2 separate regions of the Homo sapiens genome follow, and region 1 is linked to region 2. Evidence: fine-mapped QTL for protein levels in blood plasma. A gene starts in region 2. The other region holds a variant in brackets. All regions are shown on one strand. Distances are from middle to middle.

Evidence for each region. A credible set is the group of variants that fine-mapping cannot tell apart. PIP is the chance, under the fine-mapping model, that this variant and not a neighbour inherited with it causes the effect. Protein levels are from antibody-based Olink assays in UK Biobank. Linkage for the fine-mapping came from a reference panel and not from the study's own genotypes, which makes the PIPs less certain.
Region 1: its variant is the best candidate, but not a certain one, in a credible set for the plasma level of the MDK protein (UK Biobank, PIP 0.79).

What each region holds. Positions count from the first base shown.
Region 1 is chr11:48,571,667-48,580,201 of GRCh38, reverse strand. It overlaps the pseudogene OR4A45P. Among named protein-coding and RNA genes, the nearest start is that of OR4A47, 87 kb to the right of the region's middle. The variant C/T (reference allele first, on the strand shown) is at 4,250.
Region 2 is chr11:46,381,307-46,383,499 of GRCh38, reverse strand. MDK (midkine) reads right to left here and starts at 1,831. Exons shown (of 5, transcript NM_002391.6): 1 at 1,742-1,831; 2 at 1,367-1,443; 3 at 1,039-1,206; 4 at 752-913; 5 at 1-31. The coding sequence starts at 1,442. The coding sequence ends at 6. RefSeq lists silencers at 847-1,141, 1,117-1,166, 1,587-1,696, 2,127-2,193.

The sequences.
Region 1 (8,535 bases), 2.2 Mb before region 2:
ATACATGAAAATACAGGGAACAAAAAACAGGACAACCACGGTAATGTGGGATCTGCAGGTAGACAGGGCTTTATGCCTCCTTTCCTGACTGTAAGTTTTAAGGGAGTTTAGGATGACCCTATATGAGATTAGTAGAAGGGTGAAGGTGACCATACAGATTGCTCCACCATTGAAAACCACAGTGAGACCTATAAAGTAGGTGTCAGTGCATGCCAGTTCCAATAATGGGTACATATCACAGTAAAAATGGTCAATGGCATTCGGGCCACAGAAAGGGAGACAGTATACAACAACAATTTGAAACACAGAATGCACAAAACCTCCAGTCATGGCCAACACAAACAGAAGGATGCAAACCTGTTGATTCATGATGGTCAAATAGTGCAGTGGCTTACAGATGGCCATGTAGCGATCCCAGGCCATCATCACCAGAAGAAAGATCTGCACCACCAAACAAGTGGTCTATAAACAGCTGGCCCATGCAAGCTCGGAAGGAAATAGTCTTTTTATCACAGAGGAAGTCGACAATCAATACAGGAGAAATGGTGGTGGAATACACAGCCTCTATAAATGACAGGCAGGTGAGGAAGAAGTACACTGGGGAGCCCAAGGAAGGGCTGGCAATAATAGTCATGACAATGAGTAGGTTCCCCACCACTGACACAATGTATGTGAGTAAAAACATGACAAATAATGCATTTTGCACATCAGGATCCTGAGAGAAGCCCAGGAAGACAAATTCTGTAATACTGTTATTTTGTCTCATTTACTCTTTTTTCAGGCTTGTATCAGAGGTGAGAGCTCAGGAGAACAGGACCTGTAATGAAATAGTGAACAGGAATATGATTACATCAATTGTGTCACAGAGCATGTCTTCGTTGTTGTATCCTGAATAGAGATTTACACACAACAAATATTTAGGAACTCAAATTTGAGTTCCTCATCAAAGAGCCCCTTTTTCCTTGACAATTCTACTTCTCCTCAAACATTTTAGATTCAGACAGAGGTTAAGATTTCTACCACTAAGTTTAGTGAATATTCTATACAGAAGAAGAATTAAAGTCCCAACAGCCATTCATACATTTAATAACTTCTTATTAAAAATATTTTTCTGGGCACAGAAATCAGCTACGATAAATAGGCAACAGGTTCTTAGTCTCAAGAAACACTCTCTGGTGGTGGTAAGCAACTCTAAATAAATAAATTGACATAGATTTAGTCCTTTGTGTTTGTACTTGTGGTATCTTTATAATATGATCTGGGTAGCACCATGAATAACATCTTCTGAACTATCTCACTCAGGTTCACCGTTTTTTATGAGACTTTGGGTCATTTACTAACACTCTCTGCCCTTTACTTTCATCATTTTTAGAATGGAGATCCCAATAGTCCTTACCTCTTAGAGTTGTTGTTTTATTAAAACAAAGTAAAATGCCTGGAACACTGGCTGGCACCTGGTAAGTCCTCAATAAATGATAGCTATAATTAGTGTTCTTGAATGCTACATTGTTAATATAGGATCAGAACAAATCATGCAGATCTTTGTCAACTTGAAAAGATTTACAGACATACTCCAGGAAAAAAAGGGATAAGATACCTGTAATTCAGGAAAACGTTTTGGAGGCACACAATAAAATTGTATGCCTTATAAATTAATGATTTAATTATATGAATAGTAATTTTACCAGTGGCCAAATGTACTTTGATGATAAGCAAGCAGAATTACAGTGAAAAAGTTGGACCCACCATAAGAAAGAGCTCAGGAAATGAAAAGAAGGCTAAAATGAAAAACAAGGAAACTGTAATTAATAAATGAGTTTTCACAAGCGATAAGATTAATGGGATAGTTAAGTGAGGCTGTATTCTTTTAAAATGTTCTTCAGAAAGATTCCTTTTAGTGACAAAATACAGAAAGTGCAACGTCCTATAGGTCTCTGAGGTGACCCAGGAGGCTTTCGGAGGTAGCCTTAACAAACACAGAACATCCTAGTATTAAAAAAAAAAAAAAGATACTTCAAAAGAAAAAAAAAACACATTGTTTCTCAGAGTCTCTAGATCTGATGGTTAAGGACAAACTTAAATTACAGATAACAGTGGGACAAGTAGAGATACAAACCCAAACTTTCAATTATGCGCTGCTGAGGAAAACTGCAGAATTACTGAACCTCAAATGTAGATAGGATGATTCCATTTACATAGATCTGGCAGTGGAAGAGGACGTGTGCAGAGAGAGTTTGAGCTGTCTCCAGAAGCCAGCTGTGATGAACACTCCATATGAACCATCATATTACCACTTCCAGATGATTTCAGAGTTCTGGCATTGTTGAAGCAATAGACTGATAGAGACACACCTGCTGAAGAACACAAGGGAATAATGTAGTCTATAGCCAATTCTGGTTTTTTTACACCTTACTTGCTGCAATATTTAGTGCCTTTTCCCTCTTACATCATAAAACTAGATTTCAACAGGATTATCCTTTTGACAATTTAAACGTTTACTTATAAAAAATAGGGTATGTGAACTACCTCTACAGTTTAAGTAACTAAAAATATTATACTTTAGGCCAGGCGCAGTGGCTCATGCCTGTAATCCCAGCACTTTGGGAGGCCAAGGTGGGTGGGTCACTTGAGGTCAGGAGTTCAAGACCACCCTGGCCAACCTGGTGAAACCCCATTTCTACTAGGAATACAAAGGTTAGCTGGGCATGGTGGTGGGCATCTGTAATCCCAGCTACTCGGGAAGCCGAGGCAGGAGAATCATGTGAACCTGGGAGACAGAGGTTGCAATGAGGTGAGATCACACCATTGCACTCCAGGCTGGGAGACAGACCAAGACTCCATCTCAAAAAAAAAATTATACTTTAAAAACTAAAAGCATCACTAGGCTTTCAATGCAAACTACTAATTTAATATTTTAATAGAAAAAAAAACAGTGATTTAACAGAGTTGCCTAAAACATGATATTTTCTAAAGATAAAATTCCATAATAACAAAAACCTCTATAATATTGTATTTCACACAGTTTTGCACAACTTGCAGGTTTGTTACATATGTATGCATGTGCCATGTTAGTGTGCTGCACCCATTAACTTGTCATTTACATTAGGTATATCCCCTAATGCTATCCCTCCACCATGCCACCACCCCACAACAGACCCCGGTGTGTGATGGTCCTCTTCCTGTGTTCAAGTGTTCCATTGTTCAATTCCCACCTGTGAGTAACAACATGCGGTGTTTGGTTTTTTGTCCTTGTGATAGTTTGCTGAGAATGATGGTTTCCAGTTTCATCCATGTCCCTACAAAGGACTTGAACTCATCCTTTTCTATGACTGCAAAGTATTCCATGGTGTATATCTGCTACATTTTCTTAATCCAGTCTGTCATCATTGCACATTTGGGTTTGTTCCAAGTCTTTGCTATTGTGAATAGTGCCACAATAAACATACGTGTGCATGTGTCTTTATAGCAGCATGGTTTATAATGCTTTGGGTATATACCCAGTAATGCAATGGCTGGATCAAATGGTATTTCTACTTTTAGATCCCTGAGGAATTGCCACACTGTCTTCTACAATGCTTGAACTAGTTTACAGTCCCACCAACAGTGTAAAAGTGTTTCTATTTCTCCACATCCTCTCCAGCACCTGTTGTTTCCTGACTTTTTAATGATCACCATTCTAACTGGTAAGAGATGGTATCTCATTGTGGTTTTGATTTGCATTTCTCTGATGGCCAGTGATGATGAGCATTTTTTCATGCATCTTTTGGCTGCATAAATGTCTTCTTTTGAGAACTGTCTGTTCATATCCTTTACCCACTTTTTGATGGGGTTGTTTGTCTTTTTCTTGTAAATTTGTTTGAGTTCATTGTAGATTCTGGATAGTAGCCATTTGTCAGATGAGTAGATTGCAAAAATGTTCTCCCATTCTGTAGGGTGCCTGTTAACTCTGGTGGTAGTTTCTTTTGCTGTGCAGAAGCTCTTTAGTTTAATGAGATCCCATTTGTCAATTTTGGCTTTGGTTGCCATTGCTTTTGGTGTTTTAGACATGAAGTCCTTGCCCATGCCTATGTCCTGAATGGTATTGCCTGGGTTTTCTTCTAGGGTTTCTATGCTTTTAGGTCTAACATTTAAGTCTTTAATCCATCTTGAATTAATTTTTGTATAAGGTGTAAGGAAGGGATCCAGTTTCAGCTTTCTACATATGGCTAGCCAGTTTTCCCAGCAACATTTGTTAAATACGGAATCCTTT[C/T]CTCATTCCTTGTTTTTGTCAGGTTAGTCAAAGATCAGATAGTTTTAGATGTGTGGTATTATTTCTGAGGGCTCTGCTCTGTTCCATTGGTCTATATCTCTGTTTTGGTATCAGTACCATGCTGTTTTGGTTACTGTAGCCTTGTAGTATAGTTTGAAGTCAGGTAGCATGATGCCTCCGGCTTTGTTCTTTTGGCTTAGGATTGACTTGGCAATGCGGGCTCTTTTTTGGTTCCATATGAACTTTAAAGTAGTTTTTTCCAATTCTGTGAAGAAAGTCATTGGTAGCTTGATAGGGATGGCATTGAATCTATAAATTACCTTGGGCAGCGTGGCCATTTTCAGGATATTGATTCTTCCTACCTATGAGCATGGAAGGTTCTTCCATTTGTTTGTATCCTCTTTTATTTCATTGAGCAGTTGTTTGTAGTTCTCCTTGAAGAGGTCCTTCACATCCCTTGTAAGTTGGATTCCTAGGTATTTTATTCTCTTTGAAGCAATTGTGAATGGGAGTTCACTCATGATTTGGCTCTCTGTTTGTCTGTTGTTGGTGTATAAGAATGCTTGTGATTTCTTTACATTGATTTTGTATCCTGAGACATTGCTGAATTTGTTTATCAGCTTTAGGAGATTTTGGGCTGAGACAATGGGGTTTTCTAGACATACAATCATGTCATCTGCAAACAGAGACAATTTCACTTCCTCTTTTCCTAATTGAATACTCTTTATTTCTTTCTCCTGCCTGATTGCCCTGGCCAGAACTTCCACCTACAATGAACTCAAACAAATTTATAAGAAAAAAACAAACAATCCCATCAAAAAGTGGGTGAAGGATATGAACAGACACCTCTCAAAAGAAGACATTTATGCAGCCAAAAGACACATGAAAAAATGCTCATCATCACTGGCCATCAGAGAAATGCTAATCAAAACCACAATGAGATACCATCTCACACCACTTAGAATGGCAATCATTAAAAAGTCAGGAAACAACAGGTGCTGGAGAGGATGTGGAGAAATAGGAACACTTTCACACTGTTGGTGGTACTGTAAACTAGTTCAACCATTGTGGAAGTCAGTGTGGCAATTCCTCAGGGATCTAGAACTAGAAATACCATTTGACCCAGCCATCCCATTACTGGGTATATACCCAAAGGATTATAAATCATATTGCTATAAAGAAACATGCACACGTATGTTTATTGTGGCACTATTCACAATAGCAAAGACTTGAACCAACCCAAATGTCCAATAATGATAGACTGGATTAAGAAAATGTGGCACATATACACGATGGAATACTATGCAGCCATAGAAAAGGATGAGTTCATGTCCTTTGTAGGGACATGGATGAAACTGGAAACCTTCATTCTAAGCAAACTATCACAAGGACAAAAAACCAAACACTATATGTTCTCACTCATAGGAGGGAATTGAACAATGGGTACACATGGACACAGGAAGGGGAACATCACACACTGAGGCCTGTTATGGGATGGGGGGAGGGAGGAGGGATAGCATTAGGAGAGATTACTAATGTTAAATGACGAGTTACTGGGTGCAGCACAACAACATGGCATATGTATATATATGTAATAAACCTGCACTTTGTGCACTTGTACCCTCAAACTTAAAGTATAATAAAAAAAAAGAAGAATGATCTCTAGGAAGAAGGAAAAACCTCTGAAATGGAAAAAAGTAAATGCAGGAAAGATGGAAGACTAATTGAAAGAAGAAATATAGCAATAAATAACATGAATATTAATCATATGTAACATCAATAAATACAAAACCAAGAAAAAAGTGGGGATTTATATTCAATACATAATTAATTTTATCCTTTTAAATGAGCAAATTTCTCCTATTTAAGAAACATAACACAATGGTAAGAGCCTTATAAGAGAAACATACTAAATAACAGGATAGAAAGTGAAAATAAAATAATAGAAGAAACTGCATAAGTTCTGACAAAAAGAACATTATTTCCATGCTAATATCAGACAAAACCAAACTTCCATGCATGAAATATTGCCAGAAATAAATGTTTGTAATGCCAAAAATTAGTAACACGAATAAAATGATAAATTGGCACAACTTTATGTTATTTTTGAAAAACAGGCTGACCTAAAAGGAGAAATAGGCAAATCAGCAATAACAGGAAAATTTTAGCACAACTCTAAGTGCTAGAATATACACACAAAAAATTTATAAAGGTATTTAAGGTTTAAACAAAACCATTAATAAATCTGATGCAGTGACATATGAGAGGATCACATACAACAGCTGCAAAATGCACATTCTTTTCAAGAGCATATAAAACATTTTCCAAAGTCAATTATATGCTGGTTCATAAAGCAACTCTCAATGAATTTCAAATAGTCATCAAAATAAAATATGTCACTGAACAACAAGAAAATCAGCTAAAAAATGAAAAACTAAAATTAGCCAGAAATTTTCTATGGCTCAACATTAAACAAATCACTCCTAAATAATCCATTGAAAAATAAATCACAGAAGTTAGAAAATATTTGGGCCTAATAATAATGAAACTACAACAATATCAAAGCTTGTAAGTCTCAGCTAAAATATTACTTGTATTTGCTTGAAAATAATAAAGACTAATGCCGCAATAAACATACGTGTGCATGTGTCTTTATAGCAGCATGATTTATAGTCCTTTGGGTATATACCCAGTAATGGGATGGCTGGGTCAAATGGTATTTCTAGTTCTAGATCCCTGAGAAATCGCCACACTGACTTCCACAATGGTTGAACTAGTTTACAGTCCCACCAACAGTGTAAAAGTGTTCCTATTTCTCCACATCCTCTCCAGCACCTGTTGTTTCCTGACTTTTTAATGATTGCCATTCTAAGTGGTGTGAGATGGTATCTCATAGTGGTTTTGATTTGCATTTCTCTGATGGCCAGTGATGATGAGCATTTTTTCATGTGTCTTTTGGCTGCATAAATGTCTTCTTTTGAGAAGTGTCTGTTCATGTCCCTCGCCCACTTTTTGATGGGGTTGTTTGTTCTTTTCTTGTAAATTTGTTTGAGTTCATTGTAGATTCTGGATATTAGCCCTTTGTCAGATGAGTAGATTGCGAAAATTTTCTCCCATTTTGTAGGTTGCCTGTTCACTCTGATGGTAGTTTCTTTTGCTGTGCAGAAGCTCTTTATTTTAATTAGATCCCATTTGTCAATTTTGTCTTTTGTTGCCATTGCTTTTGGTGTTTTGGACATTGCGGCATTATTCACAATAGCAAAGACTTGGAACCAACCCAAATGTCCAACAATGATAGACTGGATTAAGAAAATGTAGCACATATACACCATGGAATACTATGCAGCCATAAAAAATGATGAGTTCATGTCCTTTGTAGGGACATGGATGAAATTGGAAATCATCATTCTCAGTAAACTATCACAAGAACAAAAAACCAAACACCGCATATTCTCACTCATAGGTGGGAATTGAACAATGAGATCACATGGACACAGGAAGGGGAATATCACACTCTGGGGACTGTTGTGGGGTTGGGGGAGGGGGGAGGGATAGCATTGGGAGATATACCTAATGCTAGATGACAGGTTAGTGGGTGCAGCGCACCAGCACAGCACATGTATACATATGTAACTAACCTGCACAATGTGCACATGTACCCTAAAACTTAAAGTATAATAAAAAAAAGAAAAGAAAATAAATAATAAAGACTGAAAATCAGTCCACTAAATATCTATTCAAGAAATCATTTCACTTAGCATAATGTCCTCTAGGTACATCTATGCTATCACATATGATATAAAAACATCATCTGCACTCCACAAATACACACAATTACTGTTTGTCAATTAAAAACAAAATAAAACAAAGAGGTTATTAAGCCTTCCAGGTTCATTCATATTGTCAAAAATAGCAGAATGTTAGTATAAGTGTGCATGTGTACATTAGATAGATGATTGATGATAGATAGATGATAGAGATAGATAGATAGATAGATAGATAGATAGATAGATAGATAGATGATAGATAGATAGATAGATAGATAGACAGACATATAGATATCACATTGCCTTTATCCATTCATCTGTCGATGGACATCTAAGTTGTTTCCATATCTTGGTGATTATGAATAATGCTGCAGTACATATGGGAGCCCAGGTATGTCTTCAAGATACTAATTTCATTTTCTTTGGATACATACCGAGTAGTGGGATTGCCGGATCATATGGTAGTATTATCCTCCATAGTGTCTTCTATAATGGCTGTATCAATTTACATTCCACCAA
Region 2 (2,193 bases):
GGCGTCTAGTCCTTTCCCTTCCCTTTCTTGGCTGTAAAACAAGAAAGAAATATTAATACCATATCAGCAGTTAGGCTGACCCATTGCAGACCGCCGGCTCCACAAACACCCGGGCATCAGGGAAGGAGAAGATTCTGCCCCCTAGTGGTTTCCAATCAGCTGACTCGGAAGCAGGGGATGGGGCAGCCATTGTGATGTGGACATGGGACATCCCCAGCTTCCTATTTCCACTTGGGATCAGAAAACCTTCAAGTTTCCAGTCCTAGTCCTGGTCACAGCAGCCCTGGGCATCCTCAGCCTCCTCACCTGAGAAGCGGGCAGATTCACCCCTGCCCTGCTGGCCTCGCTGGGCTGAGTCACGAGTGAGCTGAGAGGCCCAGGGTGGGCCTTGACCTCCTCCCAACACTAGAAAGGGCAGAGCTGACCAAATGCTGCCCGTGGCTGGAGAGCTGACAAAGGCAAGCCGTTCCAGGACACTCTCCCTGGGTCCTAAGCCAGATGCTCCAATGGAGTAGTTTGAGTTGGTCCCTATTTGGGCCAGGGAGGATTTATGTCCCCAGCATCACCTGCGGCCTCTCTTGTAGTGCCCATCTTCAGACTTTTCCAGGCAGGGAAGCCAAGTGAGGCGATGTCAGGAAGCCACTGGCCAGGACTCAAAACTTAAGGTTTAACTTGGAATTGTCCCCTCACAGGCGGGGGGGGGGGGGGGCAGCCCCCCGCGACAGCCCCACCCCCTTCTCCTTTCGCTGACCTTTGGCCTTTGCTTTGGTCTTGGGGGTGCAGGGCTTGGTGACGCGGATGGTCTCCTGGCACTGAGCATTGTAGCGCGCCTTCTTCAGGGTGCCTTGGCGGACTTTGGTGCCTGTGCCCCCATCACACGCACCCCAGTTCTCAAACTTGTACTTGCAGTCGGCTGGCGAGAGAGCGGCCCAGGTCAGCGCTGCGCGGCCCGCGGCCCCGCCCTCCGCCAAGGGTCCGCCCAGGCTTCGGCGAGGCTGTGCCCCCCGTCTCCTGCCCTCTGACTGCGCCCCGCCTCACCTCCAAACTCCTTCTTCCAGTTGCAGGGCACCCTGCACCGGATGCGCTGGGTCTGGGCCCCGCAGGTGCCCTCGCGGAAACCCACGCCGCAATCCTTGCTGCTGGGGGTGCAGGGCCCCCAGGCCCACTCAGCGCACTCGCTCCCCGGGCCGCCCTTCTTCACCTTATCTACAACGCGCGAGGAACAGAGTTCAGGACTGGGGCACGGGGAGACTCCCTCGGGAGCCGCCTTCCTGGGGTTCCAGGCTAGGAACCCAGGCGGCCCAGCCCAGAAGTGGAGGGGCCTCGCCTGCCCGTCCCCAGCCCTCCTTCGATCATCCCCCATCACCTTTCTTTTTGGCGACCGCGGAGGTGAGCGCCAGCAGGGCGAGGAGGGTGAGGAGGAGGAAGCCTCGGTGCTGCATCCTGAGGGGAGAGCCCGAGTCTGAATCCCTGGCCCGTCCCCTTCCCCACCGGGGGCCGCGTGCAGGGCCCTCCCACCTCCGCGTGCTCCACTTTCCAGGCCCCAAGTCGGGCTGCTAAGGTGGCGGCGGTGGGAAGACTTGGGGCGGCCCCTCGCCGCTAGCCCGGACGCACCGCTAAGAGGCGACTCCCCGGGGGACGCCTCGAGCCCAGGACGCAGCTCAGACCCCCACCCCCGCCTCCAGCCCCCAGCCCCTAGATCGGCCGCGGCCGGGCGGACCAGGGGCCGCCGCGCGCTCACTCGCTCGCTGCCCGCGCTGCTTCGCTCCCTCCCGCGCCGGGCCCGTCCCGCTCCGGCCGCCGCGGCCCCTTTTGTCTCCAGAACCGGTCTGAGCCGGTCACATGGGCCCCCGCCCCCTCTCCCCACCCCCCCAGGGAAGGACCCGCCCCGCCCCCTCCCCTCAAACCCGCACCGCCCCCGACCCCGGCGTCCCCGCCCCCGCTCCAGCCCGCGCCCCCCGCGCTTCTACTCCGGCGTCCGTGTTCCCGGCCCCGCGTCCTCGCGTCTCCCCGCCGGTGCCCTCTGCGCTGCGACGGCGGCCTCTCCCGGCCCCATCTTCCGAGCGGTGGTCTCCCGACCCCGGGCCCCGTCCCGCCCGCGCACACCGGCCCCCGGCCCACTCCCTGCGCCGCCGCCCGCTGCCCCCATCCCAGGTCGTCCCCTGCCGTACGCCAAGGCCCGGGCCGTTCTCA